Linked DNA regions of Homo sapiens: region 2 is linked to region 1. A link means that fine-mapping ties the variant in region 1 to the expression of a gene that starts in the linked region. Tissue or cell type: whole blood. Region 1 holds a variant in brackets; the other region holds the start of a gene. All regions are shown on one strand. Distances are between the middles of the regions.

The links. PIP is the estimated chance that this variant, and not a neighbour inherited with it, causes the effect.
Region 2: it holds the start of APOLD1, and the variant in region 1 is fine-mapped to the expression of APOLD1 in whole blood (INTERVAL, PIP 0.98).

The regions. Positions count from the first base shown.
Region 1 is chr12:12,724,734-12,732,838 of GRCh38, reverse strand. LOC105369663 (a long non-coding RNA gene) reads left to right here and starts at 7,716. Exons shown (of 2, transcript XR_931366.4): 1 at 7,716-8,105. It also overlaps a transcript of APOLD1 not described here. RefSeq lists an enhancer at 6,692-6,961 and silencers at 7,342-7,591, 7,932-8,011. The variant G/A (reference allele first, on the strand shown) is at 3,445.
Region 2 is chr12:12,782,569-12,790,673 of GRCh38, reverse strand. It overlaps APOLD1 (apolipoprotein L domain containing 1), which reads right to left and starts at 5,015. Exons shown (of 2, transcript NM_030817.3): 1 at 4,980-5,015; 2 at 1-3,765. The coding sequence starts at 4,982. The coding sequence ends at 3,022. RefSeq lists silencers at 3,489-3,598, 3,629-3,728.

The DNA of each region.
Region 1 (8,105 bases):
TTTGATAAATATATCTTTAGTCATACGTCTGATTATTTCTCAAAATTAAATTCGTAGAAAAGTACATGCTTTTTCTTTTTCTTTTTTCTTTTCTTTTTTTTTTTTTTTTGAGACAGAGTCTCACTCTGTTGCCTAGGCTGGAGTGGAGTGCAGTAGTGTAATCTCTGCTCACTTCAACCTCCGCCTCCCAGGTTTAAGCGATTCTCCTGCCTCAGCCTCCCAAGTAGATGGGATCACAGGCATGCACCACCACACCTGGCTAATTTTTGTACTTTTAGTAGAGACGGGGTTTCGCCATGTTGGCCAGGCTGGTCTCAAACTCCTGACCTCAAGTGATCCTCTCGCCTCAGCCTCCCAAAGTCCTGGGATTACAGGTGTAAAGTTTCCATAACACATTAAGACCAAACCATTTTAACTGTTTTTGCATATTTGAATCTCTTTATTAAATGCCAATTTAAAATATTTATTTTTCTTAACGGTAATAACAGCAGTAATTAACAATCACGGCGCCCAGCTGAAAAGTACATACATTTTAAATGCGCAGTATATAAAATGTGTGTGTATGTAAGGGAGATTTAATATTTTTCTCCAAACGGTTAGCTGTAACCTAACACCATTTATTGCATAGCATAGTTTCTCTCTACTAATTAGACAATTTATGTTTATCATGTAATCAACTCTTCATGAGGCTTTTAAAAGAGAATAGAGAGCTTGAACGAAAAGCCAGAATAAGGTGATGGTTTTGGAGAGACTGGTATCACCAGCAACGTACAGGCATTAAACTTAAAAGCAGGAATGGATGGGGATGTGTTGAGAGCATCAGCCTCTTACATACTTATAGTTGTGCTGGCCTTAAGAGGCTGATTCGGGGGATTTCTATGTACAAAGTAAGGAGATGCCACTAAGCTAAAGATAACATTATTTGGATGGGAGGGATTTTACACTGAACCTGAAAGACGGTCGTGGCTTCCACGCATGCAAACTCTTTGCTTCTTTGGTCACCAATGAAGCTGGAAAAATATCACTAACCCTTAGGTAGAAAGGAGGGAAGCAAGGATTAAACTGTCAAGAAAGAATAATGGCCGTCTTTGTATCTGAGTGCCTCAATTTCCCTATATTTATATATTCTGTATATGGTTTATATCCCAATAGTCTACAATTGAGCATGTTTTCATTTATTAAAAGCCTTTCATATTTTCTTTTCCGATAACTGTGTTCATATCCTTTGCTTATTTTTCTACTGGTTTGTGTTTTCTTCATGGATTTGTAGAAACTCTTTATTTATTGGGGAAATTAACCCTGTGATATGTGGGTTGCAAACATTTTTCCCAATTTGTCATTGCATATGTATGTGGGTGTATGTGCTACTGATTTATTACCACAAATAAATCTATACCAAGTCCTTTCAGAAATCATTGGAAGTGACACTAAATTCAACAAGTGCCTTAAAAAGATTTTATTGTGGTAAAAATACATAAAATTTACCATTTTAACTGTTTTTGCATATCTAATTCTCTTTATTAAATGCCAATTTAAAATATTTGTTTTTCTTAATGGTAGTATCAGCAGTAATTAAAAATAATAAGACATATTGACAAGGTTAACATAGTACTGGCTGTGGTTACTGGGAGAAGACAAAATAAAAACTGGATATCCCCATTAATTTGATTTTTTGTTTGTTTGTTTGTTTGTTTTTTTGAGATGGCGTCTTGCTCTGTCGCCCAGGCTGGAGTGCAGTGGTGCGATCTCGGCCCACTGCAAGCTCCGCCTCCCGGGTTCACGCCATTCTCCTGCCTCAGCCTCCCGAGTAGCTGGGACTACAGGCGCCCGCCACCACGCCCGGCTAATTTTTTTTATTTTTAGTAGAGACGGGGTTTCACCGTGTTAGCCAAGATGGTCTCGATCTCCTGACCTTGTGATCCGCCTGCCTCGGCCTCCCAAAGTGCTGGGATTACAGGCGTGAGCCACTGTGCCTGGCCAATTTGATTGTTTACAAATATGTAATGGTCATTATTATATACCATGTATTGGGCTAAATACAACACATACATTATTCCATCGAATACTTTTAATACCCTATGAGAGTTATAAGCATCCTCATTATATAGACAAAAAAAAAAAAAACTTTTTTCTTTCTTTCTTTTTTTTTTTTTTTTTTAGAGGAAGTCTCAATCTCGTCCCCCAGGCTGGAGCACAATGGCATGATCTCAGCTCACTGCAACCTCTGCCTCCCAGGTTCAAGCGATTCTCCTGCCTCAGCCTCTCCAGTAGCTGGGATTACAGGTGCCTGCCACCACGCCCGGCTAATTTTTGTATTTTTAGTAGAGATGGGGTTTCACCATGTTGTCCAGACTGGTCTCCAATTCCTGACCTCAAGTGATCTGCCCGCCCTGGCCTCCCAAAGTGCTGGCATTACAGGTGTGAGCCACCATGCCTGGCCGAAATAAAATCTTTAAAAGGTGAAGTAACTTGCAAATGGCAGTTCAGTAACTGGACTCAAACCCAGGCAGTAGGATTCCAGAGCCTGAAATTGAACCACTACAGCATCTCACAAATAATATGGCCCAGTACACTGTGTGAGATTCTTTTAGACATACCATGGATGAACTTTAAATTTTTCCAGTGAGCCAGGCATGATGGCTCATGCCTGTAATTTCAGCACTTTGGGAGGCTAAGGCAGGAAGATCACTTGAGACTAGGAGTTCAATACCAGCCTGGACAACATAGCAAGAACCTGTCTGTCTCTCTCTCTCTCTCTCTCACACACACACACACACACACACACACACACACACACACACACACACACACAAAGTTAGCTGGGCATGGTGGTGTGCACCTACAGCCCTAGCTACTTGGGAGGCTAAGGCAGGGGGATCACTTGAGCCCAGGAGGTCGAGGCTGCAATGAGTCATTGCACTCCAGCCTAGGTAACAGAGTGAGACCTGGTCTCAAAAAAAAATGTCCCAGTAGTTGTATATTCTTTTTTATTGTGGTTAAATACAAGTAAGATACAAATTACCATTTAAACCATTGCTTTTTAAATTATTTTTATATTATTATTATTATTATTTTATTTTTTTAGAGCTGCCAGGCTGGAGTGCAGTAGTAAAATCATAGCTCACTGTAGCCTGAGCTGCGGCCCTGAACTCCTGGGATAGAGCAATCCCCTTGCCTCAGCCTCCAGAATAGCTTAACTATTTATTTTTATTTTTTAGAAACAGGTCTTGCTACGTTGTCCAAGCTGGTCTTAAAATCCTGGCCGCAAGAGCTCCTCCCAGCTGAGCACAGTGGCTCACAACTGTAATCTCAACACTTTTGGAGACCAAGGCAGGAGTATCACTTGAGGCCAGGCGTTCAAGACCAGCCTAGGCAACGTAGAGAGATCCTGTCTCTACCAAAAAGAAAAAAAAATTACATCTTATGAATTCTATGTTTATTGTC[G/A]TACTCAGAAAGTCTTTCCCCAACTCTGAGATTTTTTTAAAAATCCTTTGAGGTTTCTCCTTGCATGTCTATGGTTTCATTTCTTTCTACTTCATCCTCTTTAATTCTTCAGGAATTTATCCTGATGTGTGAGATAAGAATCCCACTTTATTTTTTTTTTTAATGCCGACAGAATTATATTTAAAACTAGACAAATTCATTTTAAATCCACATGGGGAAAATGGCAAGCAAAAGAAAACAGGAACATTCTGGGGGAAAAAAAGGAGTAAAGGGACCCATCGAGATGTGGAGGACTCGGCCCACCAGCAATTCAAACATATTCCAAATTTACAGTAATTATATTATGGTCCTGAGTGGACAGACTGCTACAACAAAGGAACGAAACAGGATGATCAGAACCTATTATCAGAATTTAGTGTAAAGAGGTGCAGATGAATTAGGGAGGACTGCCATCTTTGTCATGTTGGGTGTTCCCATCCAAGAATATGGTATACTTTTTCATTGTGCAGGCTTCTGCTAGAGACCCAATCTTAGAATGAGCATACTGCTCTGTCTCCCCACTTTCTTCCTATCTCCTGAAGAGTCGCAGTGAGGCTCTGCCTGTGCAGGTTTTGTGTGGGGTCTAAATAGTTTTTTTTGGCAGAGTCACAACTAACATATTGGAGTTTCCAATCTTTCTCTTTCTTTCTTTTCTTTCTCTCTCTTTTTTTTTTTTTTTTTTTTTTTTTTGAGACAGGGTCTCACTGTTGCCCAGGCCAGCATGCAGTGGCATGATCTCGGCTCACTGCAACCTCAGCCTTCCAGGCTCAAGCAATCCTCCCACCTCAGCTTCCTGAGTAGCTGGGACTACAGGCAGCACCACCACACCTGGTTAAATTTTTTTTTGTTTTTTGTAGAAACGGGGTTTCACCATGTTGCCCAGGCTGGTCCAGAACTCCTGAGTTCAAGCGATCTGCCCGCCTCAGCCTCCCAAAGTGTGCGGATTACAGGTGTAAGCCAATGTGTCCGGCCTCCAGTCTTCCTATTGCCATAATGTGAAAAGCTGTGGTGACCAAGTCTGAGTTCATCAGACATATCTATACTATATTCCCATAGTCTGGGCTTGAACCCTACATTAAGTATTAAACAGGCTGGGCTCAGTGGCTCACACCTGTAATCCCACCACTTTGGGAGGCCAAGGTGTGAGGATTCCTTGAAGTCAGGCATTCAATACCAGCCTGGTCAACATAGCAAGACCCCATCTCTACAAAAGTAAAAAAAAAACTGCTGGATGTGGTGGCACACATCTGTAGTCCAGCTACATGGGAGGCTGAAGTAGAGGATCTCCTGAGCCCAGGAGCTTGAGGCTGCAGTGAGCCATGCTCATGCCCACTGCACTCCAGCCTGTGTGACAGAGTGAGACCTGTCTTTAAAAGAAAAATTAATTAATTAATTAATTAAAGATTAAACAGTAGGTGTTAGATGTTGGCAGAATTCTATTTAAAGGTTTCAGAGATGCTAGGTATGGTGGCTCATGCCTGTCATCTCAGCACTTTGGGAGGCCAAGGCAGGAGAATCATTTGAGGCCAGAAGTTCAAGACCAGCCTGGGCAACGCAGCAAGACTCTCTACAAAGTTAAAAAAAAAAAAAAAAAAGGTTTCAGAGCACACATGTAATTGCAGTGATTCTGGAGGCTGAGTTGGGAGGATTGCATGAGCCCAGGAGTTGGAGGTTGCAGTGAGACATGACCACACCACTGCACTCCAGCCTGGATGACAGGGAGACTCTATCTTTTAAAAAAAATAAGAAGAAGAATAAATAAATAAATAAATAATAAAGCTTTCAGAGGCTGAGTTTGGGTCTCACTTTAATTTGAGAAGTTAGGATGGCAGCTAGAAGTTACCACCTACTCCTCAGTATTAATAGTCACCACTTTTAAAGATGGGGCCTCAAGTTACCACAGGTGATAGTCTTGAACAGTAATGTCCAATAGAAATATAATTTGAGACACATCTGTAAATTGTCTAGTAACTCCACTAAAAAAGTAAAATGGAATAGATGAAATTCATTTTAATAATATATTTTATTTAGCCCAATATGACAAAATATTATTTCAATAGGTAATCAATATTAAAATTATTAATGAAATATTTAACATTTTCTCTTCATACTAATTCTTGGAAACGTGGTGTTTATCTCATATAGCACATCTCAATTTGGACTAGCCACATTCAAGCGCTCAAATAGCCACACAGCTCTACAAGATGCTAATGAGCAAGGAAAGTGGCTTAATTTAGTGGAAATCCAGAAATGCCAAGGTTGGAAATACAGTTTCACAGGGGTCTGGAATAGACTTTGAAATCACTAGTCCAAATACTATTTGATATTTGAATCTTGTCTACAACGTTCCTATCAAGGGGTCATCCAAGACTAGTGCTTGACTCACACTCCAGGGATGGTGAGCTCACTGCTTCCTGAGGCTAGCGTGTCTTCAACTCAAAAAAGTTCTCATTCCATTAAAACACATGTTTTCTTATAGTGTCCACCCTGGTTAGGTGGGTTCCTGGAGGTCAGGAGTGACTAGCGGACTTTTATGATATGGGATTAGAGATTAAGTGAACACAGCCTTGCTAAAGGCATAATCAGGTTGGTTTATGGTCTTTCATGGACCTTAATTAAGAGGTTTGTTAGGCTAAGAAGGATTGGGGGAGTTAAGAACTAAAAAATGTCACCACTGAGTTAGAAACTGTTAGAAGGCTAGTGCTGGATATCTGGTTAAACTCGTCCGATACACTGCAGCAAGACTAAAAGACAAAAAGAAAAAGGTGTGTATCTATGCAAATTTCGCTAATATGGAGATAGAATTTCACTAATACGGACATAGGGACTGAGAGAATCATTTGACTTATTATAAACTTTAAAACATAATTGGGTTCTAATTCATAAAGAATGTCATTTCCATTAGACCTGTATTACAAAAAAGAAAAAAAAAGTCATCCTAAATCTTAACGTACACACGCTTTATCAAAAGAATTTCCGTACCCAGAAATCAAAGGCACTTCAAAAGTCTCATTTCGTATCTTGAGTTTGTTTTAACATATTCCTCCCGCAAAAACGCTCTGGAAATCAAAGAAAACTTTTTTAAAATTTAATTCAATAAAAATGACACCGACTGGCTGAATTATGATGGGTTCTGAGTGGCGGTTGAAATAACACATTTTTCCTCTATTTCCTCTTTTTTTTTTTTTTTTTTTTTTTTGGTTGCGAAGAGGTGTTCTTTTCCGGGCCACCTCCACCCTCCCGCACTCCCCAGTTCTACCTTTCCAAGGCAGGGGAAGGTGCATCCTCGCCAGGCTCCTGCCCGCGCCTTCCGAGTACCCCTGGCCCGCAGCCGGTGACACGGCGCGCGGAACATCCGTGAACGAGTTGGGTTACATCTCTGTCCCCGCGAAGCTGCAGATCGCTGACCGCCCCGCGCACCCCCGCCTGCCTGCACACTGTCAACCGCACTTAGGGGAAATTTTTGGAACAGAAGCTCCGCCCATCCTGCTCCCACTGCCTCCACTAACCGACTCAAAACCCCCACCTCGGGCCGCCGAAGCAGGTTTCGTCACACGATCTGGGGGACTGTATTTTTTACAAGAAAACAAGCATCAAAAAAAAAAAAAAATTCAAACTGCACGCGCCGGCCAATGGGGAAGAAGTGGGAGGTGGGCGGAGGCCGCGCGCGGCGCGCGAGGCGGGGAGGGGCCCCGGGCGGGCGCGGGGGCTGGGGCCGCGGGAGATTCGGCAAACGCGGCGGGCGCCCGGTTCGGGGCTTTTTTTTTTTTTTTTCTCTTCCCAAAACCGACTAGAGCGCGAGACTCCGCCTGAAGCTGCAGCTTCTCGGATCCACCTTAAATCTTCAGCGGACTCAGCGTCGGGGTCAGTGGGCGCAGCCAATGCCAATCAAGTTTACAACCAGCAGCACGGGAGGGAAAAAAAAAATCATCTGCAAGTTCTCCCTACACACAAATACGCGCGCGCACACACGCACACACGTACGCACACACACACAGAAAGAAGGAGGGGGTGGGGGCGGGCGCTCGGGAGAGGGCGAGAATGTTTGTGAAATGCGCGTCCGAGGCTCCGGGGCCGCGGCCGGAGCGCGGGGCAGGCGCGCGGGGAGCGCAGCCCGGCGCGAGCGCCATGATGGTCGCCGCGGTTCGGGGCCCGTTTTCTGGAGGGGGAGCCGCAATGATGCAATCCCCCGGCCGCGCGCCCTGCTCCCTGCCTTTTCTCAACGTTCCTTTAGAGGCGCGTCGAGGTTTCGCGCCCAACGCCTTGATTTCTTTTTGTACTGCTCGCTCCGATGCCTGCTGCTCAGTGTCCCCACGCGTGACAGGCCGGGCGCGCGGGCGGCCGCAGAGGGGCTGGGCCTTACGTGTCAACTCGGCACTTTCGGTTCTGCGGGGTCGGCCTGAGGCGGACCCCACCCCATCCCACCCCAGTCCCCAGGCCAGCCCGGATCCGGGAGGTGGCCGCTGAGGTTTTCCAGCGGGACTGTGGGCCCCTTCCCCACCCCCAGCTGGGCCCGCAGGATTTTTTACCTCCCTTTTGGCTGAGAGGGGGTGGGTGGGCGTAGGGTGTGGCCCAGGTGAAAGACACAGCAAGTTTTAAAAAGAAATTCATACTCTGAACAC
Region 2 (8,105 bases), 58 kb before region 1:
GAGTTCCTACTATGTGCAAAGTATCGTTCCAAAGTAGACACTCTTCCTTAGAAATAAAGTGGGCCACTGAAATCATAACTTCAAAAGTCTAGAACTTTTGATACACCCAAAATATGAGAGGAAAAGTTTGCTGCTGCTGTTACTGTTGCTGCTTCCAAAAGTGCCCAGTTTAATTCTAGGGAATAGCTTAGGCATTGGAAGAATATAATTTAAACTTAAGCATTAATAAAAGATGGAGTTAGGGAATGGTTGTACCTTTATGCCATAACACAACTAATAATGTGAAGTACATTCTAAAATGATTTAAAATGATTGTGAAACAAAACAATTCATCTAAAATGAATTGTTTGATCTAAAATGCTAGCATCTGGCCAGGCGAGGTGGCTCATGCCTGTAATCCCAGCACTTTGGGAAGCCAAGGTGGGCGGATCACATAAGGCCAGGAGTTCAAGACCAGCCTGGCCAACATGGCGAAACCCTGTCTCTACTAAAAATACAAAAAATTAGCCGGGTGTGCTGGTGCACATCTGTAATCCCAGCTACTCAGGAGGCTGAGGCAGAAGAATTGCTTGAACCCAGGAGTCGGAGGTTGCAGTGAGCCGAGATCAAACCACTGCAACTCCAGCCTAGGTGACAGAGTGAGACTCTGTCTCAAAAAAAAAAAAAAAATGCTAGCATCTGGGTGAAACAGTCTAGGAGATGACACCAGCTTGAAAAGAAACCAATATAAATTTCAAAATAAACCAGCATACAGACCAATTGCAATTTATAGAAAAAATAAAAATGTAGAAACATCACCTCCTCTCCCCGACCCCAGTACTGAAATTATACTTCCTCAGACATACTGCCCCATCACTGGGAAGGGTGCGGACAGATTGGGTACATTTATAGAATATTAAATAATTAAGTAACAGAGGCACCGTTTTTGCATGTATGGTCCCAAAGACTTTTCAACTTATTTTTCAACATTACAGTTGTTAAGAATGGAAATTGAAGGAATTGTACATATTTTCACTGACAGTTTCTTACAGACCCCAAAGTGAAAATGCAACACATCACCACCATAAGACAAGCGATTTTGTCTGTCACCCAGAAGACATAACTTGATAGGACATCAGGCTTGCAAGTTCTAAGTGCTTCCTTCACATACCTCTAAACTTTTTATCTTTCCTGAACTAAATAGATTCCTTTTCCAGGTCAAGTGATACCTTCTGGCAAAATACCTTCAGGATAAATATGCTTCCTCAGTTATATATCCCACAATGCAAGCTTCCATTACAAGCTTAAACTCAGCTCCTGGTCTTGCCATTCAAGACTCTCCACACTTACTTCAAAGGATCACTTAAAACACTAGAGAAAAAGAATCTCCCTGAAGGAGAGAGACAATCAAGGAAAGCAATGCTATTTCCAGCTCATGCCCTGCCTTAGAAACTCAAACTTAATCTCATCTCTTGCAAAGAGCCTCAGCAGTCTCCCATTTAGAAACTTGCTCTTATTATTTTCTAAATGTGGTGATTAAATAAAATTAAATGCAAACACTAAACAATAATTAAAAATTAAATTACAAACTTAAAATAAATAAAAAATACATGGACTGGCACTTTTCAGAGAAGGTAATAATAGACAAAGGTCAGTTTCAGGAACTTCATATTCCTTTCTGTACCAGTTTCTACAACAGGCGGGAAACACTGCCCCCTAATGGGCTTTTAGTGTTACATCCCTTGTTCATACGGTGAGACACTGCCCCAGGGTGCACGTACGCGTGCTCTCTCTCTCTCTCTCTCATTTTGGCTTCTGGGACACAGTCTGTCCTTGGTCATCTGTGAACGACTCTGAAGACCATGGAGTCCCTAGAGAAGCCGTGAGACTTCGTGAAAGCTCATCAAGGGGATTAGAAGTTAGCATTTGTTGCAGTGATTTTCAAACCTTAGTGTGCCGCAGAACCACCCAGAGAAATTGTTTAAACTCAGGTTGCTGGGCCCCACAGCCAGAGTTTCTGATTCCATAAATCAGGAGGGTTGTGTCCAAGAATTTGCCTTTCTAACAAGTTCCTGGGTGATGTTAATTTGCCATTCCAGGGACTACACTATATGAGCCAGCACCATCATGCTAGGCACTTTGGCTCATTTAATATCTCACAACAGGGTGAGATTTTATCATCTTTGTTTTACACAGTCTCAGAGAGATTAGGTGGCTACACTCACACAGTAGTGACAAAGCCTGTCTCAAGCCCAGGACTGTCTAACTCAAAACCCATCACTCTCTTCTGAACACAATGATGTCGGGAAATGAAGTTGGCAGTCGCTCCATCTATCTGGCCCTCAGCTTCATGTGAGGGAGCAGGACTTAGATGACGGCTTCACGGGCTTCCCCTCTGAGTACTTGGAGGACTGGATTGGGAGCCACTCAGGAAAGGCCTACTTCATACCCAGGCCGCATCTGGGAGTAAGTAAGCTGAGGGGAAAGGGAAGAGGAGGAGATATCAGCACCAGGGTCCTCTCTGGGTTCTGAACCATCCTACAACGTTCAGAGAAGGGCTGATTTGCTCTGGATTCTGGAGTTCTTTGTATCAGAAATTCTGGAATAGAGGCAAACGCCTTCCTCACGCACATTTTGAGGACTTCAAAGACTAGTAGGACTTGGAGAGGACCCAGAGGATGGCACTCTCTCCAGTCTCAGGCCAAGCCACCAGGGCAGGGTCAGGGACCCCGAAATAACTTTAAAACAGGAGTGCCTGCCCAGCTGTGTTTAGACAGAAAGTTTTTGATAAAGGAAAAAGAGTTTTTGGGTCACATTTTTCCACTAGGAAGACTGAAAAGTCCGTAGCACTCAAGCCCAGGCAGATGTCACAGTGATGGGAAAAGAAGGGCTTTGGGGACCTGCCCACTTCAAAAACAGTTTTTCTCATCCTTTGCCTTCGGCTCCTAACCCAGCTTGGTGTTTTCCTAAGGGAGCTACAAATTCTGGAGCATCCCATGAGGATGATTTGCTGGCCTCGGTCATTAGGGGGAAAGGATGTTCTCAGAAAAACAGCCCTGCACGCTGGTCAGCAGAGATCTTGAGGTCGTGGCCACGACTGGACTTGGTGCAGAGCTGAACCCGAGACTCCAGCTGCTCGCTGAGTTCGTCCAGAGCCCCGGTGCAGGACTCCAGGCTCTCGGCCAGTTTCTGAATCTTGGCCTTCAGCACGGCCTGGCTAACCTTGGTGTCCCCCTCCGCCCGCCTGGGGATGAGGAAGCCACGTGAGCCAAAGAAGACGATGAAGTAGACAGAATTGTACAGGGCGATGGAGGCGTTCCTCCCGCACTGCAGCAGCTGGCGGTCCCCGCAGCCCTGCCAGCGGCAGAAAAACTCGAGGCAGCTCAGGATCTCTCGCATCTGGTCCTGGCAGGTGGCCGCGATCTCCTGCACCCTCCGCAGCTCCCGGGAGTTGCAGAAGATCAGCGAGAGATCGGACGTGATGGTGACGGCCCCTCCGGCTGTGGCCACCCCCAGCCCCACGGCCGACACCAGCAGCGAGGTCCCCAGGGTGACCGGGCTGAGCGAGAGCCCCACGATGGCGGCGAGGGCGCCCGTTGCGCTCAGCGAGCTGCCGGCCACGTTGGCTACGAGGGAGCGCCTGCGCAGGCGCTCCAGGCGCCGGGCCACCTCGCGCAGGCGCAGCACCTGGCCGTGCAGCCGGCCTCGGCGGTCCAGCAGCAGTCCCTGGAAGCGCCGCAGCGCGTCGGGCCCATGCGGCTCCCGGGCCGCCGGCCTCTCCATTCCCTGCGGGGACATAGACACGCGGTCAGCCTGGAGTCTCCGTGCCAGCCGCCGCTCCCGCCCTGCTGCCCGGACGCCAGCGGGAACTTGGCACGAGTTCAGCGGAGCAGCCACTGCCACGCTAGGGGAACGGGTCTGTTTCCAGTGGATCATGAGACGAGTTCTCAAAGACCTGTTCTGGAATCCGGGGGGAGCCACACAAGTTCTCAGGACCTTATCTCTGCATATGGAAATAGGAATAATGCTATCTTCTGCTTCTCTCCCAGGGAACGTTAACGATGGGCTTCATCAGCTATGTGTTAAATAAGATTTAAACTGGGAGGGGCGTGGTATTAGAAGGCTTCTCCAGTACTGAGGCCTTTGCTCTACTTAAGATAACACTTTGTAAGTGGTGGGTTGTACAGTTTACAAAGCCCTTTCATCATGTGAAAATTGGATCCTAGGAGTTTTGCAACACACTTTTCTCTCTCTCTAATGAATGAAAAAGACTTCACCAAAACCTCAAAAATCGTATTTTCTACCAAGCAGAAGAAACATCTAAGTTAGATGCTTGCCTGAAGCAACTCTTCTGCTTGTGATTCTTCCAGGCTCTTTTCTTAGAATCAAGCCTAAAATGAGATTTGCACTGTTTATTCTAACTAGGGCTCCTTGGATCTTCAGAAACATCAGTCTTTGCTGGGTGCTTGATTTAAACTAAGTCACATTAAATTAATACCATTATGTCTCTTTGTTATGAAAGTTTTCTTTTAAAAATGAGTAATGGTTGAATAAAATAAAGTGGCCAAAATTTTTGTTCAACAACTTCTACCACGTTGAAGCCAACTGAAGATGACTGACAAAGATACGAACAAGTTGTACATCTTGGGGGAAAAGTATATTCATCCTAGTTGCAGATTCCCACCTTCATGTCCACTGTACTCTTCATTATTAGGAACTTCTTAAAAGTGGCAAATGAGCCATAGAAATAGAGCATTTCAAAACTGAGCTATCAGGGCAGAAATCATTCTCATCTGGAAGAATTGCCTGCATCAGACATCAGATTCTAGAAGCAGCTGATTCTTCACAGAGCCCAGTCTAGAATCCTCATCTCCTTATTCACAGGACTTAATTTTACTTCCATGCTTCCATAATCCAACCCACCAGGGATAATTTTCCAGGTGAAAAGAGAAAATGAGAAAAAGTCATCCCGAATATATGCCTCAGGGTTCCCCACTTACCATTCACTTCTGTCTGCCTCCAGGAAAGTAAAATCTGAGGCTGTTTCTGGATGAGTGTGCTTTATAGTTCCAGAGAACCAATGGCTGCCCTGGGAAAGCCTTGTCTCATTCTGAGAATTTGCCATTTCCTGTCATGACCCCTGCTGCCTTCATCTAGAAGGACGTGACATGGTGGAAAATGACCTGCCAGCACAGCACATCCCGTATTTAGGAAACGAACATTGTGTGTTCGCTTTCCCCTGAACGCAGGAAGAGAACCACAGGCTCTTCCCTAACTTGAAACAAGTGTGTTGTCATTCTCCCAGTGGGATACCCTGCCTTTCCTGAGAATAGCTAATGACGCGATAGAGAAGGCCTTCAAACGCACCCCAGGCTGACCAATTATAGTGTTTCTTGAGGCCACCATTACAAAATCATATTTTAAAAGAAAAGGGAGGGGGTGGAAAACCCTCATATCTGACATAGCCGCTCATACTCCACTGCTGTATTTTTAAAAGCGTTGTGAATCTGTGAGTGGCTGGAGCCTGGGATCATTTGGCATGCAGCGGGTACCCTGCAGTCCTAAGAATGCAAGGCCACACCCACAGGAAGTGCTGCGTGCAGTTTTGGGCATCTCCAGCTGTGGAGAAGACATTGGCGGTCTCAGAAAGGGCACACTCCAGGTCACATGCATCAGAAAAATCAGTGGGGTCAGGCTGCATGAGGAGCTAATTGTACACTTTCAACCACAATAGGGCATTGGCTTCCCAGGTTTTCATTTGAAGTAGCAATTGTAGCCCATGTGATAGGGAAATGAGTGGATTCTGTCTACAGGGTCATGAGGCATGGGCTGAAGGGCAATTATTTTGATAATTCAGCACAGAAAAGTGAATGTAGCTTCTGTGGACTTGCTGCAGACCAGACCAGATGGAACATAGATATCTCTGGGGCATTCAGAGGTGGTTGGAGCTCAGCCTAGGAATTCAGTCCTACTACATGTCCCCAAATCCATCCATCGTCCTTCTAACCCTCTCCTCCAGATAAGGAGGGCCAAATTCGTTTCTCACTTGAATAAGGATTATCTCAACTCTCTGGCTTACCTGGAAAGCCTTAACAGCCGTATCATTCTGGAACATGATTAAATCCCCCACCTTTATGACTATACTTTGTATTTATCAACACAGTATAACAACAGTAGCAACAGAAAGGACAACCATAGTCCTTTCAAACTTGATTATTCTAGATTTGGTCCACTTCCAAATATTCTTGTTACAGCTCCTCAAAGGATAGCTGTAACCTCAATCTAGATGCCTCCAGTGTGTCCTTTTGAGGTTAGAAGTGGAAGAATATCCTCCTCTATCTCCATAGACATGGTCACTCCAAATGGGATGTGGGCCAGCGCGAATTGGGGAGGTAGACAAGAGGGAACATACCACTGATTCTTCAGCTGACACATGTTCCTCTAACTTCCCTGGACATCATCCTGTGTGTTTTGGGTTTAGAGGAACACAATTAAATCTTTATTTTATAGATGAGGAATATTGCTGGGATACAGGGTCTTCCTCAGAGCATCAATATCATAGTACAGAGGTGGGATGAAGAACCAGAAGGTAGAGGAAAATAGACAGCGTGTATACTGACCTCAGCCCATATCTTGGAATTTGTTTTTCTCTGTGTTGAAAGCCCATTTTCTTTGTATTTGCCTCTTTATGGAGGCAAAAAAAATTGAGTTAATTGACAGTTTGGGCTAAAGTTTTACTGCCCATAAAAACCTGGTACTTTGGCCAGTCATGGTGGCCCATGCCTATAATCCCAGCACTTTGGGAGGCAGAGGAGGGAGGGTCGCTTGAAGTCAGGAGTTCGAGACCAGCCTGGTTGACATAATGAGACCCCATCTTTACAAAAAATTTAAAAATTGGCCGGGCATAGTGACTCACACCTGTAGTCCTAGCTATTCAGGACGCTGAGGCAGGAGGATCACTTGCACCCAGGAGGTCAAGGCTGCAGTGAGCTATAATGGTACCACTGCAACACAGCCTGGATGATAGAGACCTTGTCTCAAAAAAAAAGCAAAAAAAAAAAAAACAAAAAAAAACCAACTGGGGCCGGGTGCAGTGGCTCACCCCTGTAATCCCAGCACTTTGGGAGGCTAAGGCTGGTGGATCACCTGAGGTCAGGAGTTCGAGACCAGCCTGACCAACATGGTAAGACCCCGTCTCTACTAAAAATACAAAAAAAACAGCTGTGTGTGGTGGCGTGCTCCTGTAGTCCCAGCTACTCAGGAGACTGAGGCAGGAGGATCACTTGAACCTGGGAGGCAGCAGTTGCAGTGAGCCGAGATCACACCGCTGCACTCCAGCCTGGGTAACGGAGTAAAACTCTGTCTCCAAAAACAAACAAACAAACAAACAAAAAACCCAACTGGTACTTCACCTTGTTTATAAGAACTGACACTTGAACTTAGCGATTCAATTCAGCATTTGTTTACTTTTATTTATTTATTTATTTTTGAGACGGCGTCTCAGTCTGTCGCCCAGGCTAGAGTACAGTGGCATGATCTCAGCTCACTGCAATCTCCGCCTCCCAGATTCAAGCAATTCTCCTGCCTCAGCCTCCCGAGAAGCTGGGATTACAGGCGTGCACCACTACACCTGGCTAATTTTTGTATTTTTAGTAGAGACGGGGTTTCGCCATGTTGGACAGGCTGGTCTCGAACTCCTGACCCCGGGTGATCCACCTGCCCCAGCCTCCCAAAGTGCTGGGATTACAGGCATGAGCCACCATGCCCAGCCAGCATTTGTTTAATTTCATATAGTAAAGACACAATAACAAATTTTAGGAACAAATGAAGGCATTTTGTTCAAAAGTTCTGTGTGGTCAGTTTCCACAAAAAAAAATCTGTGGACCACATCCTCAGACTTCTCTTTTAAATTGTTTGTTGGGCACTTCCAACACATCACCCTAGAGAGACTACACTGAAAATGGTAGTTGGCCTTCAAACTAGCCTTCAGATCTGTTCAACTCTTTTTTTGTTTTGTTTTGTTTTGTTGAGGCAGGGTCTCACTCTGTCACTCAAGTGGGAGTGCAATGGCACCATCACGCCTCACCGCAGCCTTGACCTCCTGAGATCAAGCAATCCTCCTGCCT